3 linked regions of the Homo sapiens genome follow. The protein of the gene in region 1 interacts with the protein of each later gene in a biochemical or structural test. Each region holds a gene or a part of one and is shown in the gene's direction. Other genes may lie near its edges.

Region 1 (6,924 bases):
GCTAAAGTGCAGTGGTGTAATCGTTGTTCACTGCAGCCTTGACCTCCTGGGCTCAATCGATGCTCCTATGTCAGTCTCCTGAGAAGTTGGGACCAGAGGCACGTGCTACCCAGCCTGGCTAATAAAAAAAGAGGAGTAGAGAAGGGGGGTCTCACTGTGTTGCCCAGGCTGGTCTTGAACTCCTGAGCTCAAGCCATCCACCCACCTTAGCCCCCAGAAATGTTGGGATTACAGGTGTGAGCCACCATGCCCAGCCTGATGTTTATTTTGAACATTGTGTGACTTTCAGGACAGTATTAGGCACAGGGTAGGCAATCAATGCTTACTTTAAAAAAATAAATTGTATGGAATCCTGGTTTCCTCTTCTTTCATTTTCTTCATAAGGAAAATGAATAGAGAATCCTAATTTCTAATAGGTGTCCCCCAGGGGCAAAAGTGTAAATCAGTTTGCCTTCTGTCACCTTCCCTTCCCTTTCCTATACTTTTCCTCTTTCTTCCTGGGTTCTTAACCACCAACATTTTGCTGCTGGAACTCTTAAGTCCCTGACTTGTATGTCTGGAACTCAAATTTCTCCCTTTTTCCTTTCCTCATTCATTTTCCTTAGGGCCTTGGGGAGATCATTGATGTCCCTTTCTTTCACCGAGTGAGTTCCTGGGCCAAACTATAACTGATCATCTACTTTAACAATCTGGCTGTCTTTGACACAGCTCTGCAACTTGCCTGAAAACTGTCCTGCTGAGTTCAAATGGTCACAGAAATAAGAAAGATATCGATTAAAGAAGTTTAGAAGGAGCCAGGAGTTGCTACATGAGTGACAGGCTGTTTGACTATTCTGTGAATAAAAAATAGTTTATACCCAACTGTGAGTTGGGAGAGGGTAGACTATGTTTGGTTAGAGCCTTTTTTTGGCTAAGAAAAAAAAAAATAACTTTTCAGGTTCCAGGAAATTTACAAAGCCTGACTTTTTCTCTCTCTTTTTCTCTCTCTCTCTCATTTGTCGTCTTGACTCTAAACTGATAATTTCAAAATTACTTCAAGAAGAAACAAAGAGTAGGCCAGGCGTGGTGGCTCACGCCTGTAATCCCAGCACTTTGGGAGGCCGAGGCAGGATCACTTGAGGTCAGGAATTCAAGACCAGCTTGACCAACATGGTGAAACCTTGTCTCTACTAAAAATTCAAAAATTAGCCAGATGTGGTTGTGCACATCTGTAATCCCAGCTACTTGGGAGGATGAGTCAGAAGAATCGCTTGAACGCAGGAGGCCAGGAGGTGGAGGTTTCAGTGAGACAAGATTGCACCACTGCACTCCAGCCTGGGCGACACAGTAAGACTCCATCTCAAAAAATAAATAAATAAATAAATAAAAAGAAAGAAAAGAAACAAAGAGTAACTTTCTCTTCCCTGGATTATTCTTTAGTTAACGTTTTAGAGCTTTAACCATCTGAGAAAGCCAGTTCCGTACTGTGAAATATGGCAGAAAACCCTTCAAAAACTTCACGTACAAATACTTCAAGGATCCTAGGTCCTTGAACAAGGTTCTTTGTAAAGTGAGAGTAAAAATCAGAGTCAGATAAGCTGCAACAGATAAGAGTGAAGTTTTGTTTGTAAAGGGTGATAACTCTGAATAAATATTTACATTTCTTCTTTTCTCTCTTATATTGGTTATAATGTAGAACTGGAGCCTGGTTGCTACTTCTGCTGTTATTTTGTGTTTAACAGAGAAAAGATCAAGTAATGGGCTCTAAAGGAAGTCTCTGCTTTTTTTTCCCATGACTCCAGTTTGGACTAAGACTAACCATGTGCTCAGTGCAAACCAAACTGCAGGCCCATTGTGTTAAATAAATCATCTTTCTTGGTAGAGTTGCTCTTGCCAACCCACACCACGCGGTAACCATGCTCCATGCTTTCCCTCCTTTGTAGCAAGGCTGGAGGTGATCCCAGTTCCCAGTCCCAGGGCTAACTCCACCCCACTTACTCCTCTCAAGAAAGCGCATCTTGTGTTTTTCAAATTACACAACCCCCAGCAATTCTGATCTTCCTGCACAGGGAGTGAATGCCACTTCCAATATCCCCTGACCCCCAGGAATCACTGTTTTAAACTAATGATCAATATCATCCTTAAGGATTCTTGCAGGTTAAAAAGCGATGCTTGGAGAGGTAACCAGTAGGATGAGGCTTCCATGGCAGAGATTAGGTGAAACAAGAAAGACACCTCTTCATTCTTACCTTCCAAGACTGTTGGCTGTTTTAGTGCCCAGTGAGCATTATTGTCTGTCTTACAAGATGACCTCTATGTAAGTATTCTGGTAACAGGTTAGCTATCCTCTTAATGAACTGCGTGTGTGTGTGTGTGTGTTGTATCATATTACTGGATGACTGAACAACCATGCATACAGTGTATGAGTGTGTGTTTGTGTGTGTATGTGTACTTATTCAAGACTGTTTAAAAAGGAGAGAGGAGCATAAATCTCTCTTATTCTGCAGGCACGCTTATATACCGTGTTGAAAGAAGAGAGCCTGGGCTTTTGAATAAGACTGAGATGTTTAAAATTTTTAAAAAAATTTTTTGAGGTAACTGTAAATTCGCTTGAAGTTGTAAGGAATAATAGAGAGATTCCCTATAGACGCTTCACTTAATTTTTCTCAATGGTAACATTTTGCATAACTGTAGAACAATATTACAATCAGTAAATGGACATTAGTGTAGTCCAAATGTCTTATTCAAATTTCATGAGTTTCACGTGCTCTCATTTGTGAGTGTATATTCAGTTCTATGCAATTTTGCCACATATGTGATCTGCTTTTGAATCTCAGTTCTGTGGAGTTCCTGCTGTGTGATCCTGAGGAAGCTCTTTGACTTCTGGGAGATCCATTTTCCTCATCTGCAAAATAATGTCTGCCTCCTAAGAGTGATGTGAGAATTAGATAAGATAATTTCTGTCGAGTTTCTAGCGCACTGGATTCTCAAGGAATGCTGGTTTCCTCTTGTCTGTTGCTTGCTTTCTCGGTAGAAAAGGAATCACCAGTTTCCTGCTAAAATAACCAGACTTGTGGGTTGTAATCCATCAGGCGGATCCTTCAAGGGCAACACATTTAACCCTGCAGCTCAAAAAGAACCATGGCCTGGACTTGGGATCCTATTTGACTGCAATGAGATCAGAAGTGTAGGGATGGGGGAGTGAGAACGCAGACTCTGGGGTAGTAGGTAGGAGGCGATTAATATCGAGCAACTGTTGGGCTGGGAACCACCAACTCCAAGGAGTTTTCGTCCTGTGTGGCTTGCGACCGAGGGTTAGCTTCACCCGGAGAAGGCTGCACAGGGGCGGGAGCCTGTGAGGACGTGGTGGGCAGGTGCGGAAGCCAGTGTAGACCCGGCAGGAGGGTCGCGCTCGCTCTACAGGGTTCCGAGTCACTTCTACAGCCCTTCTGCCTCCTGAACACCCTTTCCAATGTTGATGGCCAATCGACACCCGAGGGCTGGGAAATCACCCCCTTAAAGTCCCGCTTGCTGAAGGCGGGGGCCCTTCCTCTGCGCGAAGACGCTGCGGCCCGAGTGTCCGCGGTGCGGGTGAGTGTAGGCGTGTTGGGAAAGAAAGGGAGGCGGACAGGCAAGGGGCGAGGGTGGCAGCGCCAGCCCCAGCTCGGTGGCGACCTCGGGGCGCCAGCCTCCTACACCCGCACCCGGAGCCCCGGCGTTTCTAACTTCAGATCTCGGAGGCGGGCGCTCGGAGCGGGAGGGCGCGTCTGCGAGGGCTCAGGCGGCGCCGCCCGCTCCTCCCTCCGCTGCCTGAGCCGCGCGGGCCGCAGAGGAGGAGCCGCGCCGGGGCCGGCGTCGCCCTGACTCCTCCTCCCCGCGCGGGCCCGGCCCTTCCTCCCCGGCGTCCAGAGCTCCGGGTGGCCGCGGCCGAGCCGGGAGCCGAGCGCGCTGGGCGCGGCCGTCCCGCTGCCGCCGCCAAGCCCGGAGTGCGCCAGCGGCCATGGTTCCCGCGGCGGCGCCGGGCGCCTGAGCCCCGGGACGCAGTAAGTGGCGCAACCCCGGGGACCCGGACCCACGGCCTGGGGGTGCACGGAGGCCTCGCGCTGCCCCCGCGCCGTCGGCGAGGCCCTGAGAGCCCGGAGCGAACTGGGCACCGGATCACTCGGGGGCTTCCCATTTGGGGTCCGGGGCCAGCGGGGCGCAATCCCTGCGGGCCGGGAGGAAGCAGCGGCCGGGCGGGAGGACGAGGCGGGGACGGGGCTGCTTCGGAGGCGGGAGGAGGGGCCGGTCCCGGAGGCGCGGGCTGCGCGGGCGGGGGCGGGCCGGCGGGGGCGGGGAGGATGCGCGCTGCAGCCCGCGGCCCCCGAGAGCCGCGCTTTTGTAAGAGCTGGCCCCTTACATATGGAAATGACGCTCACGCGGGTCCCCATTCGCGTCCTTTTGAAGGACGCCCGCCCGGAACCGCTGCGCCGGCTGCGAAGTATTGTCCCGTTTCTCCAGCCCTAACAAAGCGTCCTCCTTCGCTTTGCAGAGCGCTGGAGGCGGGCTGCCGGCTGTGCGGGCGCTCCGGAGAGACCGACAGAAGGTAGGCGAGGGCGGCGGGGCCGGGGGAGCGCGCTGCCTGCCCACACAATGGGCTGTCTGAGGTTTCTGGTAGTGGCGATGGGCAGGCGAGTTGAGGACGCATCGCAGGTGGCCAGGGACTTGGGAGGCGCGCTTGTCCTGCGGCCGCACCTCCGCTTCCCCGCGCGGCAGCACCGCTGGGTTTGGGCACTTCCAGTACCCCCGACGCCCCGGCCGCCTGCCCGGAGCTGAAAGCCGCTTCTGTGCTTTGACCGAGAGCAGGCTTGAGTCCCCGAGGGAGCAGAAGGGGTGGTGGTTCCGTTGGCATGTGCCGCCCGTACAGCCTTGTGATTGAGACGCTGCAGAGGAAACTGCATGGGGAAATCCGAGGTGTTAGCCTGGGCTGTCTGAGTAGCGGAGAGCTGCTTGGAGCCCGGAAAGTGGAGATTTTTGGAGGTGTGCGGGGTCGATGCGCGTAAACAGTTTCCCAGTATAATGCCCAGGAGAAGGGGAAAGAACAAAATGACATTTGGTTATTGCCTAAAAGGTGTGGCATGGAGGTATGGAGTGTCGGGGAAGGAAGCTTCCAGCGGCTAGGCTTCTGTAGCTACCGAAGCGGCCCCTGACAGAAGGACACTAGGTGATGGGAACAGTCACTGCTTCCAGCTCTCGCTGCGAAGTTAAAAGAGATAGAGACGGAAAGAGGCAATTTCCCTAACCCCAGCCCTGACAACCCGAGGTGAAGGCACCAACAAAATGGGAGCTGGAAAGACTGCCCTACCATATATCATGTTTCCAGACAACTTGGATATTATGAGATCTGCTTTCTGCTCCTAACTAGGACAGATCCTCTCCTGGTGTTGAGGACTTCTAAGATGGGCTTGCCATACAGCTCAACTCCTGAATTTATTACATCGAAACAGATTGCGTAGTTGTCTTTTGTGACTGACATGGTAGCTTTGTAGGATGAGAATCCTGATAAAGTCCATCCTGACACATGAGGGAAGCCCCTGGAACCACGACGTTTCTCAGTTAGGTCCCCGTAAACACCATAACATACACACATGTTTGCATGATTCCGGAGGCTTGATGATCTAACAAGGAAAATTCCTTTTTTCTGTCAGTTTAATTTTACCTTGAGTCTTCTCTCGTGGTGAGCATATTATATAGGTGGCTGACCTGGAATATTGGTGGCTCTTGCTCCGGAGTTGAAGGGAGCTGAGGATTTCCAGAGTGTGTATAGGAGGAACATTACAGGCTGGCTGAAAAACGAGTTTGTGTGTTGTGGTCTCTTCAGCTATTGTCAGTGTCCTTTGGGAGGTGATGTGAACTGCCCGGGAATTTGTTTGCAGATTTGTTTATTTTCCCTGTTCTCTGGTGATTCTTTAGAGGGAAGCATTCTGCAGAGTGGGGAAAAGGTAGGATGAATGTTCCACAGGGTTGGACATCGGCAAAGTTATTACCAATACAGGGAAAGGCTTCACAGGGGGCAATAGAGAGGAAGCCATCATACAGTCTGCATTAAAATGTCAAGGATCAGTCATTTTAATAGGCACTTGCTCAGAATGGCGTGGGGTTCTTTTTTCTTATTTCTTTTTCATTTTAGATGTGTAATGACCCTTAATATCAAAAGATGTTAACTGTCACAGAGGGGGAGAATAGGGCTCCAGTGAATTCTGAACAGCCAATCTTAATGTAATAGGCAGTATTCTTATCATGAGTCAAATGTTCAAATAAATTGTTTTAAATGTCACTGCAAATGACTTTCTAAACTAACATTTCAACTATCTTGATGCTTCCATTTTATGTTGATAATGAAAATGCATTTTATCAGTCTTACATTGATAAAGGGTGGGCAAGCTTAGCCAGAGCATTTTAGAAGGATTTAAACAGCGTGAAGCCTTTTTAGAAGGCTTATTTTTATAGATGCCAATTCATTTGTAAGCCAATAAATTATCTGGTTTGAATTCTAGCTATTGAACTTGCATCTGTTGGGCAGGGGCTTATGGAGAGACTTAGTGAAGCTTGCAAAAAGATTTTTATCCTATTTATGAATAAAATAGAATTTTGAAAAGATTATGAGATTCTGAAAGTGAGCATCCTTGTTTGAAATTAGGACACTTCTTTATTGCAATTTAAGTCAGCAATTAACCATTTATTCAAGCTTTTGGATGGAAAAATTACAAAGCATCTATCTATACCCTAATTCTCACTTTAAAAACAAAGTTGGGAAAATATTGTTCATAGACGTGAGAAGAGAAGATCACCTTCACTTACACCTCAGGGTACCATACTCATAGCCTCAGGCATCCTAAATTAATGTGAGTCAATATGGCTTAAGAAGTGGAAGTTGTTATAAGCTTTCTCCTTTTTTTTTTTTTT
Region 2 (7,582 bases), on another chromosome or scaffold:
AGGAATTCCATAGGATGAGTCTTCTGTTCTTAAACCGAGTGTAAGGATAAGGCTGTCGGAGAGGAGGGAGTAGGATTTGGGCATCAGAGCCCCCCAGCTGCTGCTCGTGGGGGTGAGGACACCAGGCCCCTGACTTTGCTCTGGTCTCTCTCCCAGCTCCCTGCCCAGGCCCACAGCCATGGCCATGGCCCAGAAACTCAGCCACCTCCTGCCGAGTCTGCGGCAGGTCATCCAGGAGCCTCAGCTATCTCTGCAGCCAGAGCCTGTCTTCACGGTGGATCGAGCTGAGGTGCCGCCGCTCTTCTGGAAGCCGTACATCTATGCGGGCTACCGGCCGCTGCATCAGACCTGGCGCTTCTATTTCCGCACGCTGTTCCAGCAGCACAACGAGGCCGTGAATGTCTGGACCCACCTGCTGGCGGCCCTGGTACTGCTGCTGCGGCTGGCCCTCTTTGTGGAGACCGTGGACTTCTGGGGAGACCCACACGCCCTGCCCCTCTTCATCATTGTCCTTGCCTCTTTCACCTACCTCTCCTTCAGTGCCTTGGCTCACCTCCTGCAGGCCAAGTCTGAGTTCTGGCATTACAGCTTCTTCTTCCTGGACTATGTGGGGGTGGCCGTGTACCAGTTTGGCAGTGCCTTGGCACACTTCTACTATGCTATCGAGCCCGCCTGGCATGCCCAGGTGCAGGCTGTTTTTCTGCCCATGGCTGCCTTTCTCGCCTGGCTTTCCTGCATTGGCTCCTGCTATAACAAGTACATCCAGAAACCAGGCCTGCTGGGCCGCACATGCCAGGAGGTGCCCTCCGTCCTGGCCTACGCACTGGACATTAGTCCTGTGGTGCATCGTATCTTCGTGTCCTCCGACCCCACCACGGATGATCCAGCTCTTCTCTACCACAAGTGCCAGGTGGTCTTCTTTCTGCTGGCTGCTGCCTTCTTCTCTACCTTCATGCCCGAGCGCTGGTTCCCTGGCAGCTGCCATGTCTTCGGGCAGGGCCACCAACTTTTCCACATCTTCTTGGTGCTGTGCACGCTGGCTCAGCTGGAGGCTGTGGCACTGGACTATGAGGCCCGACGGCCCATCTATGAGCCTCTGCACACGCACTGGCCTCACAACTTTTCTGGCCTCTTCCTGCTCACGGTGGGCAGCAGCATCCTCACTGCATTCCTCCTGAGCCAGCTGGTACAGCGCAAACTTGATCAGAAGACCAAGTGAAGGGGGATGGCATCTGGTAGGGAGGGAGGTATAGTTGGGGGACAGGGGTCTGGGTTTGGCTCCAGGTGGGAACAAGGCCTGGTAAAGTTGTTTGTGTCTGGCCCACAGTGACTCTCTGTGCACGACTCAACTGCCAAGGGCATCACTGGCCAATTCTTGGATTTAGGGATTGGCTAGGAGTTGCTGGGGTCCACTCCTGGGCCTGCCCCAGCTCCTTGCCCAGGGAGAGGGAAAGAGTTAACGGTGTGGGCCACTCCAGCTTGCCCTTCCACTGCCACTCACTGGGGTGAGGCTGGGGGTCAGCTTGGTGAGGATTGGGGCTTCTAGATTGTCTAGGCAGGAGGTGAAACTTAGGCCAGAGTCAGATTTGAGCTGAGCCAGGGGAGGCCTTGGCAACCTACTTCTACTCAGATTTCATTGCTGGATGCGGAAGGGGTAGGCCCAAAATATATACAGGATCTTACTGTCCCTTGAAGCCCAGCCACAAGTGTTGGAGCTGCAGAGAGACCCCAAAGGTAGTAGATTGTGCCAGATACAAATGGGTCCCATCCAGTGCTTCATACTCCTTCAGTCACTATCCCAGACAGTGAGCCCCAGATCTCCTAGCTCTGGCTTCTGTGTCCCACACGGCCTGTTCCCAGCTTCTCTCCTGGTTCCCTTGTTACGGATTCATTTATCCATTCAGTGTTTCCTGGGCCTCTGCTCAGAGGCAGGTCACCACTGGGCCCTGTGGATCAATGCAAGATGACAAAGGCTTTTTTTTTTTTTTTTTTTTTTTTTTTTTTTGAGGAGTTTCGCTCTTGTTGGCTAGGCTGGAGTAAAATGGTGCGATCTCGGCTCACTGCACCTCCGCCTCCCAGGTTCAAGCGATTTTCCTGCCTCAGCCTCCCGAGTAGCTGGGGTTACAGGCATGCACCACCATGCCTGGCTAATTTTCTGTATTTTTAGTAGAGACGGGGTTTCTCCATGTTGGTCAGGCTGGTCTTGAACTCCTGACCTCAGGTGATCTGCCCGTCTCGGCCTCCCAAAGTGCTGGGATTACCGGCATGAGCCACTGCGCCTGGCCGACAAAGGCTTTGATATCAGAATGAACTGTCAAGGGAGGTGCTGGAGAGGGATTAACCTGTGCTGCCTGGGACCCTCAGGGTCTTAGGTTGGGGAGTGTGAATAGGAGTTTGCAGATGGAGAATAGGAAGGGCATTCCAGGCAGAGGGAAACCTGTGCAGAGACCAAGAGGTGTGGAAGGAAAAGTGGGGTTGGGGCTGGGTGGTCTGGATTATGGCCTGGATGCAATAAAGTACTGTGACAGTAGCCACCTCTTTGTTTTTTGTCTCCTGTTTCCGGGAGGGGCCCCTGCTCACATTACTGGAGGTTTTCCGGAGGAAGCTGGGGCCCCTGGGAGTGGACACAGGGTGCAGGGAGCAGTTCTTGTTTTATCTTTGCTGGGGGATGGGGTTGGGGCCTTATATACCATATCTATATATACAAAATTTGTTTGGCAAGGGAGTGGGCGGCAGTTTTATTACTAAAGTTTTATAAGTAGTTAAAATAATGTGTTTAAAATATGATAATCCCACTTTATGATCTGACAAAGACTTTTTTTGTTTGGTTTTTCCTTCAATTAAGGAGGGTTTTTTTGTTTTGTTTTTAGTGGAGGGGGCAGGGGCGTGCACACTCCACCACACATATTGAGCCTCGTCGCATGCGCACCGAAGAAGTATGTTAACTTTTATAATATTGCTTTTTCCATAGTACACAGCAATATATATACAATGAAGGAAAATTGGGAAGATAAGAAAACCCAAATTAATTAGAAATATCACTTCACTGCTGAAATATCATGGGGGACCTTATGAAATACACACACACACACACACACACACACACACACACACACACATAAAATATGTGTATATAAATAAATATTTTGATATAGGCCAGGCATGGTGACTCACGCTTGTAATCCCAGCACTTTGGGAGGCTGAGGCAGGCATATCACCTGAGGGCAGGAAGTTGAGACCAGTCTGGCCAACATGGCGAAAACCCATCTCTACTAAAAATACAAAAATTAGCCAGGCGTGGTGGCACACACCTGTAGTCCCAGCTACTTGGGAGGCTGAGGTGGCAGGATCGCTTGAGCCCAAGAGGTTGAGGCTGCAGTGAGCTGAGACTGTGCCACTGTACCCGAGCCTGGGTGACAAAGCGAGATGGCTCTGTCCACCATGAAGACAGGCTCTGGCTGCAGAGATGGTTGAGGTTCCTGGCTGACCTGCTGCAGACTGGGCAAGAGGTGGCTGAGCTTCTATCCTCCCTCCACCAAAAAAAAAAAATTACAAAATTTTTGGCCGGGCGCGGTGGCTCATGCCTGTAATCCCAGCACTTTGGGAGGCTGAGGCAGGCGTATCACGAGGTCAGGAGTTCGAGACCAGCCTGGCCAATGGTGAAACCCCGTCTCTACTAAAAATACAAAAATTAGCTGGGTGTGGTGGCGTGCGCCTGTACTTCCAGCTACTAGGGAGGCTGAGACAGAAGAACCGCTTGAACCCAGGAGGCGGGGCTGCAGTGAGCCGAGATAGCGCCACTGCACTCCAGCCTGGGCGACAGTGAGACTCCGTCTCAAAAAAAAATTTTTTTTACATATACAATATGTAAACATTACGTATAATGTACATATATTCCATCTATGGAGATTGTGGTTAGGGACGGAAGGATGGGTGGGGGTGCCAACATTTTTGCATTTCCAAGGGGTTTTCTGAATTCACAAAGTACTTTCACAACCTCATTTGATCCTCTTTAAAATCCAAGGCACAGTAAACGGTGAAAGCAGGACTGAAATCTAGTTCCTGACCCCAAATTTTAACCTCTTCAAAATCCTCTCCCATGTGGCTTCGTAGTTACGCTTACATTAAAAAAAAAAAATTACCAAAGTTGTTCGCACACTCGAGTGTCTGGTAACCACTTAGGTCGAGGACCCCTGGTCTGGAGTCGACGGGCCTGATCTCGGCTCAGCCACTTCCTTCTGGGGGTGATCGCGAAGATTCAGCGATGACACGAACAAATTCCTAAGCCCGGGAAATACTGTAAGAAATTTTCAATACAGCAAAAAGAAAATGTACATTTCTGAGGCTGTCGAGAACCGTTCACACAGCAGCTTCCGAATCCGCTCTTGAAAGAGCGGATCAGAAAGAACACGCACTCCTCCGCGCAGGGAAATATGCCGCACGCACTCAAGGGACCGGCCGCGAAAGTTAGTGCGTGGGCGGGGCACAGCGAAGGGGGCCAGGGCCTTGCCGGGGCGGGGCTGGCGCCCGGGGCGGTCGCGACGTAGCCCCGCCCCCAGCGTTGGCGCGAGATCCGAACGTCGGCGGCCGCGGTTCTGGCGTTCCCTGAGGCGCCGGGAGCCTGCGCCGGCGTCCTGCCGGCTTCGTCTCCTCAGCGGCCATGAGGCGGACAGGCCCCGAGGAGGAGGCCTGCGGCGTGTGGCTGGACGCGGCGGCGCTGAAGAGGCGGAAAGTGCAGGTGGGACGCTGGGGGATGAGAGGGCGTTGGGAACCAGGTAGGGCCTGGAGGCGTAAGACGGGAGGAGTTTGGGGGACACCTGGAGATGATGAAAGCGAAGTCGGGGACAGAGAAGGGAACAGCGTTGGGGATTCACAGGCGAGAGGGATTGTGGTCTGAAGAAGGTTGAAAAACGGGGCTTGGGGAGGATGGGAGGGACGGAAGGAAAGAGCGTGCTGTTGGGGGGTCTGGAGGAGCGGTGCGCAGGGAGGGGCGGCGAAGGTTCAGGTGTGGGAGAGGCGGAGGGAAAGTTCGCTCGGAGCAGTTGAACTGACCAGGCTCCCTAGGAGGCCACAGTCCCTGCGAGACGTCCTAGTAGAGGCTGGAGCATTGGGAGATGGATGCGAATGCAAATTGGGGAAATTCTCACCCCGGGGTCTGTTTCCACCCAATTTGCCAAGTTGCAGGCCAACTACCTGCCCAGAACCGGTAACTTTGAGGGGAAAAGTAGAAGCTATGGGAAGGGGAGCTGGCCTCCTATGTACTGAGCAGTCACTGGGTGCCGGATACTGCATTAGATACTGAATATGCGTTATATGTGTCGTCATTCTTGCTGGGAATGAGGAAACTGAGGTTCAGTAACTAACCTAGGCCCGCCTAACTAGAAGGAGCTGGAAATCACATTCAGGTCTGTCACCTAGGCAAGATGCTCTTCAGTCACTGTAAAGAAACAAAAGTGCGACATAATAATCATTCATGTTTATTGAGCATTTTATGCTGGTGCTAAGTGTTTTAGGTATGTTACCTTGTTTGGTACAATTCTATATGGTAGATAGTGTAATGATACCCATTTTACATACGGAAAACAGGCTCAAAACAGACACTAGGGGCAAGATTCTTGCTCTCAGGTTGCTCACAGTCTTATAGGGAAGAAAAGAGGTGTATAAATAATAACAACAATACCTAACCTTTATTGAGTGCTTTCTATGTGTCAGGCATTTTGCCGAGACTTTATACACTTTATCAATGGCAGGTACTCACCAAAATTCAGTAAAGTAGATTTTGTCATTATCCTGGTTTTATAGATAAGAAATTTGATCATTTTATTATTATTATTTATTATTATTATTTTTTGAGATGGAGTCTTGCTCTGTCGCCCAGGCTGGAGTGCAGTGACACAATCTCAGTTCCCTGCAAGCCCCACCTCCGGGGTTCACGCCATTCTCCTGCCTCAGCCTCCTGAGTAGCTGGGACTACAGGCGGCCACCACCACGCCCGGCTAATTTTTTGTATTTTTAGTAGAGACAGGTTTTCACCGTGTTAGCCAGGATGGTCTCGCTCTCCTGACCTCGTGATCTGCCCGCCTCAGCCTCCCAGAGTGCTGGGATTACAGGCGTGAGCCACTGCGCCCGGCATATTATTATTATTGTTATTTTTGAGATGGAGTTTCACTCTTGTTGCTCGTGCTGGAGTGCAGTGGCGCGATCTAAGCTCACTGCAACCTCTGCCTCCCGGGTTCAAGCGATTCTTCCGCCTCAGCCTCCCGAGTAGCTGGGACTACAGGCGCCCGCCACTACGCTCGGCTGATTTTTGTATTTTTAGTAGAGACAGGGTTTCACTATGTTGGCCAGGCTGGTCTTGAACTCCTGACCTCAAGTGATCCGCCCGTCTCGGCCTCCCAAAGTGCTGAGATTACAGGCTTGAGCTACCGTGCCTGGCCGATTGTTTTATTTTTTCAAAAATTATCAAAATGGCCGGGTGCGGTGGCTCACGCCTGTAATCCTAGTACTTTGGGAGGCCGAGGCGGGCGGATCACCTGAGGTCAGGAGTTCGAGACCGGCCTGGCCAACATGGTGAAACCCCGTCTCTCCTATAAAAAATACAAAAATTTGCTGGGCGTGGTGGCAGGTACCTGTAATCCCAGCTACTCGGGAGGCTGAGACAGGAGAATTGCTTGAACCCAGGAGGTGGAGGTTGCAGTGAGCCGAGATCGTGCCACTGCACTCCAGCCTGGGTGACAGAAGACTCAGTCTCAAAAAAAAAAAAAAAAAAATCAAAATGTGCAATAGCTATTTATTACTCCTTGAATTAGGAATAAGCCATTTGTACCCTTTGAATACATTCTTGAATGACATGGGATGCGTGGGAAACTTGTATACCACTTTGATTTGTTAGTTAATTTTGGAGACAGGCCTCAGTCCGTCACCCAGGCTAGAGTGCGGTGGCGTAATCACGACTACCTACAGCCTCAACGCCCCCGGGCTCCAGGTGATCCTCTTGCCTCATCCTCCCGAGTAGCTGGGACTACAGGCATAGTGCCACAAAGCCCAGCTCATTTTTTGTATTTTTTTTTTTTGTAGAGACGGGGTTTCGCTGTGTTACCTAGGCTGGTCTTGAACTCCTGAGCTCAAGTGATCTGCCCACCGTGGCTTCTCAAAGTGCTGGGATTACAGGTGTGAGCCACTGCACCCAGCCACCAGTTTAATTTAGAAAGAGAACAGAAATAGAATTAGGAAGAGTTCAGGAGAGCGAGAAAGGGAATATTCCACAGGGAAGAGGAGAGCCAATATTTGTCTCTCTGTCTATAATTCTGTTTTGTTGTTGTTGTTGTTGTTGTTGTTTTCCGAAATGGAGTCTTGCTCTTGTTGCCCGGGCTGGAGTGCAGTGGTGCGATCTCAGCTCACTGCAACCTCCACCTCCTGGGTTCAAGCAGTTCCCCTGCCTCAGTCTCCAGAGTAGCTGGGATTACAGGCATGCACCACCTTGCCCAGGTGAATTTGTATTTTTAGTAGAGACGGGGTTTCTCCATGTTGGTTAGGCTGGTCTTGAACTCCCAACCTGAGGTGATCCACCTGCCTCGGCCTC
Region 3 (7,158 bases), 1.2 Mb from region 1:
TTCGGCAAGTGTTTCCTCTGCAGTATTAGATGTGGAAGGTGAATGCTTTATGCTGTTTGCATGACTACATAAATTCCTATTCATTCCTATTCGTTTTCTACCAATAAAATTGAGTTCTACTGCCCTGCCATTTTGCTTTTAATGCTAAATCATGAAATTCCAGAGCTTGACCTTAAAAAGCAGCAAGTTTTCATATTTAACATAAAGAGTCTCAGAAAGAGATAAAGGAGATGTTTGCTCATCGGGAGGCTCCCCCAGGGAGAGAGACCTTTCTGCATTATACAACTTGTTCCAAAAATTCTGATTTCATGGGGTGTTCAATTGATAACATTCATTAGAATATAAAACCTGTTTTTCTGTGCACTGTAGAGACTTTTGTGGCTATTCCTGGTTATTACCAACTTGTTCTGTTCACTGTTTTCGGAAGACTAATTTGAACAAAGGCTTCTAGTAAAACTGCCAAGACTTTAAAAGTTGTTACAAGTTGTGAAACTGTCCTTCAAAGAGCAACTTTTACCTCTGACTGGTTGCCTTTCTTGATAATGTGTTGCCCTGGCAATACCGTTGAAATGGCCACCTCTACATTTCTGCAACCATATATGCCCTTGCAAATATTTTAGGTTTTGTGAGTCATGTGGTCTATGTTGCATTTATTCAACTCTGCCCTTGTAGCACCAAAGCAGCCAGTTAGCAAATGGGCATGGCTGTGTTCCAATACAACTTTATTTATGTACACTGAAATTTGAATTTTATATAGCTTTCACATGTCATAAAATATTATTATTCTTTTGATTTTTCAACCATTTAAAAATATAAAAACCATTCTTATCTTGGTTTTTTTTTTTTTGAGTACTCCATCTAGAAATCTCTTTCCCCAGATATTTGTGTGGCTAACTTCCTTACCTCCTTCTAGGCTTTCCTTACACTTCACTGTCTCAATGAGGCCCAACCTGACCATCTTGTCTAAAACTGCAACACCCATTATATCCCCACCGCTATTTGTTGCCCCCCTTACCTTGTTATAATTTTCCTATAGTACTTAGAACCTTCTGAATAGTAAATAATGTATTTATTTATTATTGTACTGTTTGTCTTCCCTTGCCCAATGATAAGCTCCCTGAGGTCAGGGTTGTTGTGTTTAAGCTCTCAGATGACTCCAAAATGCCTACAAGATTGCCTGGCATGTAATTGACACTCTAAACACTTTACTGAACAATTCAACAGATGAATTAATAGCCTGTCAAACCTATGATCAACCATTAGATTGGAGTTCAGGTCATTTGATAATAAAAGTTGATTTCCAGATCCTTCCACCAAAAAGACACATGCATTCTCATGTTCATTGCAGCACTGTTCACAATAGCAAAGACGTGGAATCAACCTAGATGCCCATCAGAGGCTGACTGGATAAAGAAAATATGGTACATATACCCCATGGAATACTATGCAGCCATAAAAAGAACAAATATTATGTCCAAATTTGCAGCAATATGGATGCAGCTGGAGGCCGTTATCCTAAGCAAATTAACACAGGAACAGACAACCAAATACCACAGGTTCTCACTTATAAGTGGGAGCTAAACACTGGGTACTTATGAAAACACACACACACAAAAGTTGGTTTCCTTTTCTTGAAGTATACAGAGGGCTTGGTCTTCAGAAATGGAATTATGTAAGATTCACTTACTGTTGGACACTCCATTCAGAATAGGTCAAAGAACTCCTTCAAATTCAGAGAAAAAAAAAGATAACTGGGTTTTAACATAAAAAATGGATTAATATTTATTTTATACTTCTTTCCCAAAGTTTGCTTTATCCCCTGCTCAAGTATCCCCTGACACTTTAGCATTCTGCATCATCTGAATCTTCCTCCAACCTCCCCACTCCTGGTGGTGGCCGGGGCTGATGACTAGGGACAGTCTTAAGTTGCTGACAATGGGGACCCTGAAGTGGAAAGACTAGGCCAGGAGCAAACAACTTCATTTTTTGCCTTGAAAGGTCAATTTCAGAAAACAAATGGTAAGAGATGTTTTTCCTTATTTTTTTAAAGAAATTCATGGTCTGCAATTGTATTTTTCCCCCTTTTTAATTTATTATTTATATGTAAGTATTTATTATTTTCCCTTCCATGATTGGTTCATTTTTTCATTTTTTGGTTAGTATTTCATTAATTATACAACTAGCATGCACTACAATATGAGATTATAGCCATATCTTTGATCAAATTTTGTTGGAAATGAGACACTCTTGAACTGATTTTCTTGATTCACTCTATAAGCACCTTAATTGAAAAATACAGATTATCTTACAGTGCCCCCTTAAAACTAAAGCTGTATTCTAGCCTCTGTACTTCTTTTTATTATTATTATTTTTGAGATGGGGTCTTACATGTTGCACAGGTTGGTGTGATCATGGCTCACTGCAGCCTCAACCTTGCAGGCTCAAGTGATCCTCCCACCTCAGCCTCCTGAGTAGCTGGGTCCACAGGCACACACGAGCATGCCAGGCTAATTTTTCTTTCTTCTTTTTTTTTTTTTTTTAGTTTTAATAGAGACAAAGTCTCACTATGTTGCCTAGGCTGGTCTCAAACTCCTGGGCTTGAACTATCCTCCCACCTCAGCCTCCCAAAGTGCTGGGACTACAGGCATGAGCTTCTGCACCTGGCCTGTACTTCTTTGTAGTACATTTTATATTTCTTGTAATTCACTTACTCTTTCTAACTCCAGATTATAAGTATTTATTTACACATCTATATTTGTCATTATACTTAAACTTCCTGAAAATAGAGACTGTAGTTTACTCATTTGTATGCTCCTCAGATCCTAAGTGTTTAATTAAAATCTTAATTAATGAAATGAAATGAAACGTACATAGTTGGCTTACCCCCAAGAATTTCAATAGCTCCCCTTAGCTTGCCATGAGAGGCTTTTCCTTATCAGAGCCCTGCCTTTGTCTATAGTCTTATCAGCTGTCATTCCCTCTCACCCTCCAGCCCCTATAAGCTCTAGTCCCTCTGGGCCATGCTGTTGCTCATTTCTTGCCTTTATACATCCTCTTCCCTCAAACTAGGTTACCCTTTTGACTGCATGGTGAATGCCTCACCATCTTCAAGCCTTAGTTTATACTTATCTGTTTATTGTTTCCCTCATTAGCCTTTTAAACTCCATGAAAATAGGGGCCTGGTCTGTCTTGTTCACTGCTCTCTCTCCACTGTCTGAAAAGCAAGTAGAGACTGGATCAGGAAAGATCTTAAATACAATAAGGAGTTTTGATTATTTCTAGGGGGTAACCAGGAACCACTAAAACATAAGCAGAGAAAGTTATGTACAGGTTTTTGCTTTAGAAAAATCTCTCTCATCGCTGTATGGAGGAATGGTTTGGAGAACGCAGGACTGGCCCTAAGAAATCAATCAGATAATTAGAGTAAGCAAAAGTGATGAGGATCTGATCTGTGGCTGTATCAGTGGGGTCCGAAAGGAGGTGAGGGATTTGAGAGTTAGGAGAGACAGAATGGCAGGAATTGGTGACCTACTGGATGCTGTGACCGAGGGTGAGGGGGAGTGAGGGACGATCTCGGCTTCAGATTTCACTCTGGCTGAGGATATCTGGAACGATCGCATCGTATTAACAATTGTATGTTTACCTGTGGATCACTCCCAATTAGTCTGAAAGCATCTTACTATAGGGACCTTGCTTTGTAGTCTTTGTATTACCAGTGTTAGAAGAGCACCTGTTATGTAGGAGGAGTAATAAAATGAATGAATGCACTCAAAACACTAAACAGTAATTCTGTAATCCAACGGGAGGTACAGCGAATACCAAAAGCCTACATATACTATTCTCTGCATGCTATAGCAAGAAAGAAAGGAAAGTGGCTTCCCGGTGGTTTTCTGCCTATTGTACAACCAGGAAGCTGACAATAAAGTTTATTTGAGCGTCGACGTGCGCCGACGTGGCCCCGCCTCCCCAGCCGGAGCCGCGATTGGTGGGCATTTGCCGGCGGCCACCGCTTTTAAGCCACGATTGGCGAAGGCCGCCGTCATTTCGGAGCGACTCAGCGCCTGCCCGCCCTCTCGCCGCGTCGCCGGTGCCTGCGCCTCCCGCTCCACCTCGCTTCTTCTCTCCCGGCCGAGGCCCGGGGGACCAGAGCGAGAAGCGGGGACCATGTTCCGACGCAAGTTGACGGCTCTCGACTACCACAACCCCGCCGGCTTCAACTGCAAAGGTGAGGCGGCGGCCTCAGCCCGGCCGCGTGTCCCTGACCTGGGCGGAGGTCCCAGCCTCAGTGCCCGCACCCCACCTCCCCGTCGGGACCCTCGGCGGCCTGGTTTCCGCCGGCAGCCTCCGGGCCCCTCTCCTCTGGGTCGCCACGTACCTCGGCTCTTCGCCGCCCCTTCCCGCCTTTAAAGCCCTCTCACCTACTCCTGTCTCGGCATGTTACTTTCTGCACTTGCTTAACTCCAAGCATCACGTAACTACCTTCTCTGTACATAAAAGGGAGAGCATTCGTCTTTCTCACTCACTATTCAACTCCATGGTTCCCTGGGTAATTAGGCGATACCTTGAGCACCTGCTAATTATGGGCCAGCGCGGTGCTGGATTCTGAGGAAGGTGCTGAGTAACTTGAAGACTAGTTCACTGCCTGCCAGGAGCTAAAGGGACGAGGGGTGGAAGCAATCAGAACCCACTGAGCAGTTTGAGACAGTACACAATGAAATCAGGACCGATCACAGTGGGAGGGTAAGCGCGTGTAGTAACGGGCTAGTTGTGTTATGTGGTGTTGCAAAAAAGTTAATAGCAGATGAGTGGGAAGGTTGAATTGTGAATACAAAGGTATTTGGGATTTTACAGCATTAGAATTTTAAAAAGTAATAACGTTGCTACTCACTGTAACTAAACTGCTACCCACCACTACTCGTTTCCTTTGTATAGTTGTGGCCTGTGATAGACTGGTAAGTTTGAAAGTGATCAAGTATAACTTGTGATACTCAGACCACTGTGTAATTCTCAAGACCTTATAATGGAAGCTTGAATTTGACTCACAAATTGAAAATAATTTCTAAGCAGGATGACAGTGTTTTGTTGATCGCCTGTAGAAGCATATCAAATTATAATCTATTGTTTTTCTACTTTAACAAAAAAGTATCAGTGACAATAGAGCCTTGTTCTGGATTGGAATCTTTGAGTCTCAATGTTCTTATCTGTAAAATGGGATATTACCTACCTCAAAAGAGGTATGGGGAGGATTAAACGAAACAATTATGCACTTAATGTGCAGTTAACATTCCATGACAACAGTTGTCACAGTGTCTTTTTTGTCATTTAATTTCTTTTACTTATTATTTTGTTGTATATTTTACTTTATTACTTTGCTATAAATTTAACCTTGCCCTCCTTCCCCTTTCTGTCCGCAAAGGAACTGGAATATTAATATGTAACACTTAAATAGCAAAACTATGTGCCAGGCACTGTTTTTATCCGTATTTATTTTATTTAAGAAACTTCTTAAATAAAACAACTTCTTTTAATCTTCATAACTCTATGAGGTAAGTTCTATTAGCACCCTCATTTTGTAGCTGAAGAGTCTGAGGCACAGAAAATGTGGGTGATTATCCCAAGTTCACACAACCAGTAAGTATCTGGACCCAGGATTTGAACAGATCATTGTTAATCTGTACTTTCAACTCCAGAATCTGTACTTTCAACTCCCTCTTTTGGTTCAATTAATTTAGTATTTTGAAGTTAAGAAAATTCCACAAGAACATATATCTGAACATATACCTGAGAAGGAGGTATTTTATGTAGTGCTTCTAGTTATTTATGTGATATTTTTTATTGCAGATGAAACAGAATTTAGAAACTTCATCGTTTGGCTTGAAGACCAGAAAATCAGGCACTACAAGATTGAAGACAGAGGGAATTTAAGAAACATCCACAGCAGCGACTGGCCCAAGTTCTTTGAAAAGGTAATGAATTAGGAAGTAAAGTAAAAATACAGAGAGTTTGTCTGAAAAATCATGAAGATGAGCTTAAAATTACTTTCTTCTTTTAAGAAAAAAATGATAATGATCAGTGTTAGGAAAGCTGGATTTCAGGGATTTTGCTTTTTTCTTAGATGTGTCTTTTGCTTTTAGAGCAAATTATTTTATGTCTTCCTACCAAGCTTTCAGTATTAGGTAGAAATAGTTTTCTCTAGAAACATGAAGTTTCTTAAATAAATAATGATGTAAATATTTCGCTTTCCCTTTATGGCCCAAATCAGAATTTTTGTTAAACACAGTACTATTTCTTATATTAAAAGAAGACATTGGCTAGGTGTGATGGCTAACACCTATAATGCCAGCACTTTGGGAGGCTGAGGTGGCAGATCATTTGAGCTCAGGAGTTCTGACAGCAGCCTGGGCAACATGATGAAACCCTGTCTCTACAAGAAAATAGAAAGTTATCTGGGTGTGCTGGCCTGTGTCTGTAGTGTCAGCTAATTGGGAGGCTGAGGTTCTCCAGCCTGGGCGACAGAGTGACACCTTGTCTCAAAAAAAGACATTATTGAGATGCTTGAAAACCAAGACTGTCGTGTTTATGCTTATATTTAATGTAAACAGATATCCCTTGTTGTATGCTAGGGAAATAGTCCTTAAATGATCTCTGGTATATCATATTTTTGTGCCTTGAATCATTTTCCCATTGATTTAGTTTTAGTAACACTTTTGCATAAAAAAGAATTCTCAGATTAGAATAAAAATGCTTTTAGTGTCATTTCTTACATTAAACATTTTCATCAGTTATATTTGATGAGTGAGATATTTTTCTTGAAAAAGGCTAAGTTTTTCATTTGCGAGAGCAGTGTGATTAGGCACTTTCTCCCTAGAATCAGTGATTTTATAAATTAGGGATTGTATAAATTACATCATTGTTATTAACCTTTCCGTGTCTCAATTTTTTCATCAATAAGTGAGGGTAACAATGATACCTATCTCATAAGTGTGGCTTTGTTTTTAATGAGTAATTGTTCACAGAAGTCCCTGGCGCATAGCAAGTGTGATAAGCTTATTACTGCCAATGCCTCTATACTACTACTATTAATACTACTGTATTCTTTTCCTTTGCTCTTAGAAAATATTTTTAAAATTTTCAGTGGACTTCTTAAAACTTTGAAAT

What was found.
Region 2: the proteins of NIN (region 1) and AUNIP form a complex in vitro, tested with the Homo sapiens proteins (one study listed by BioGRID).
Region 3: the proteins of NIN (region 1) and RTRAF form a complex in vitro, tested with the Homo sapiens proteins (one study listed by BioGRID and IntAct).

What each region holds. Positions count from the first base shown.
Region 1 is NC_000014.9:50,828,104-50,835,027, reverse strand, and holds the start of NIN (ninein), read left to right. Parts: upstream 1-3,865; 5' UTR 3,866-4,022; intron 4,023-4,510; 5' UTR 4,511-4,564; intron 4,565-6,924. UniProt on the Homo sapiens protein: Centrosomal protein required in the positioning and anchorage of the microtubule minus-end in epithelial cells. May also act as a centrosome maturation factor.
Region 2 is NC_000001.11:25,856,436-25,864,017, reverse strand, and holds the start of AUNIP (aurora kinase A- and ninein-interacting protein), read left to right. Parts: upstream 1-4,560; 5' UTR 4,561-4,660; coding exon 4,661-4,738; intron 4,739-7,582. Other genes in the region: PAQR7 (membrane progestin receptor alpha), read left to right, coding at 179-1,219. UniProt on the Homo sapiens protein: DNA-binding protein that accumulates at DNA double-strand breaks (DSBs) following DNA damage and promotes DNA resection and homologous recombination.
Region 3 is NC_000014.9:51,985,476-51,992,633, forward strand, and holds the start of RTRAF (RNA transcription, translation and transport factor protein), read left to right. Parts: upstream 1-4,070; 5' UTR 4,071-4,164; coding exon 4,165-4,225; intron 4,226-5,043; exon of another isoform or gene 5,044-5,109; intron 5,110-5,841; coding exon 5,842-5,966; intron 5,967-7,158. UniProt on the Homo sapiens protein: RNA-binding protein involved in modulation of mRNA transcription by Polymerase II. Component of the tRNA-splicing ligase complex and is required for tRNA ligation.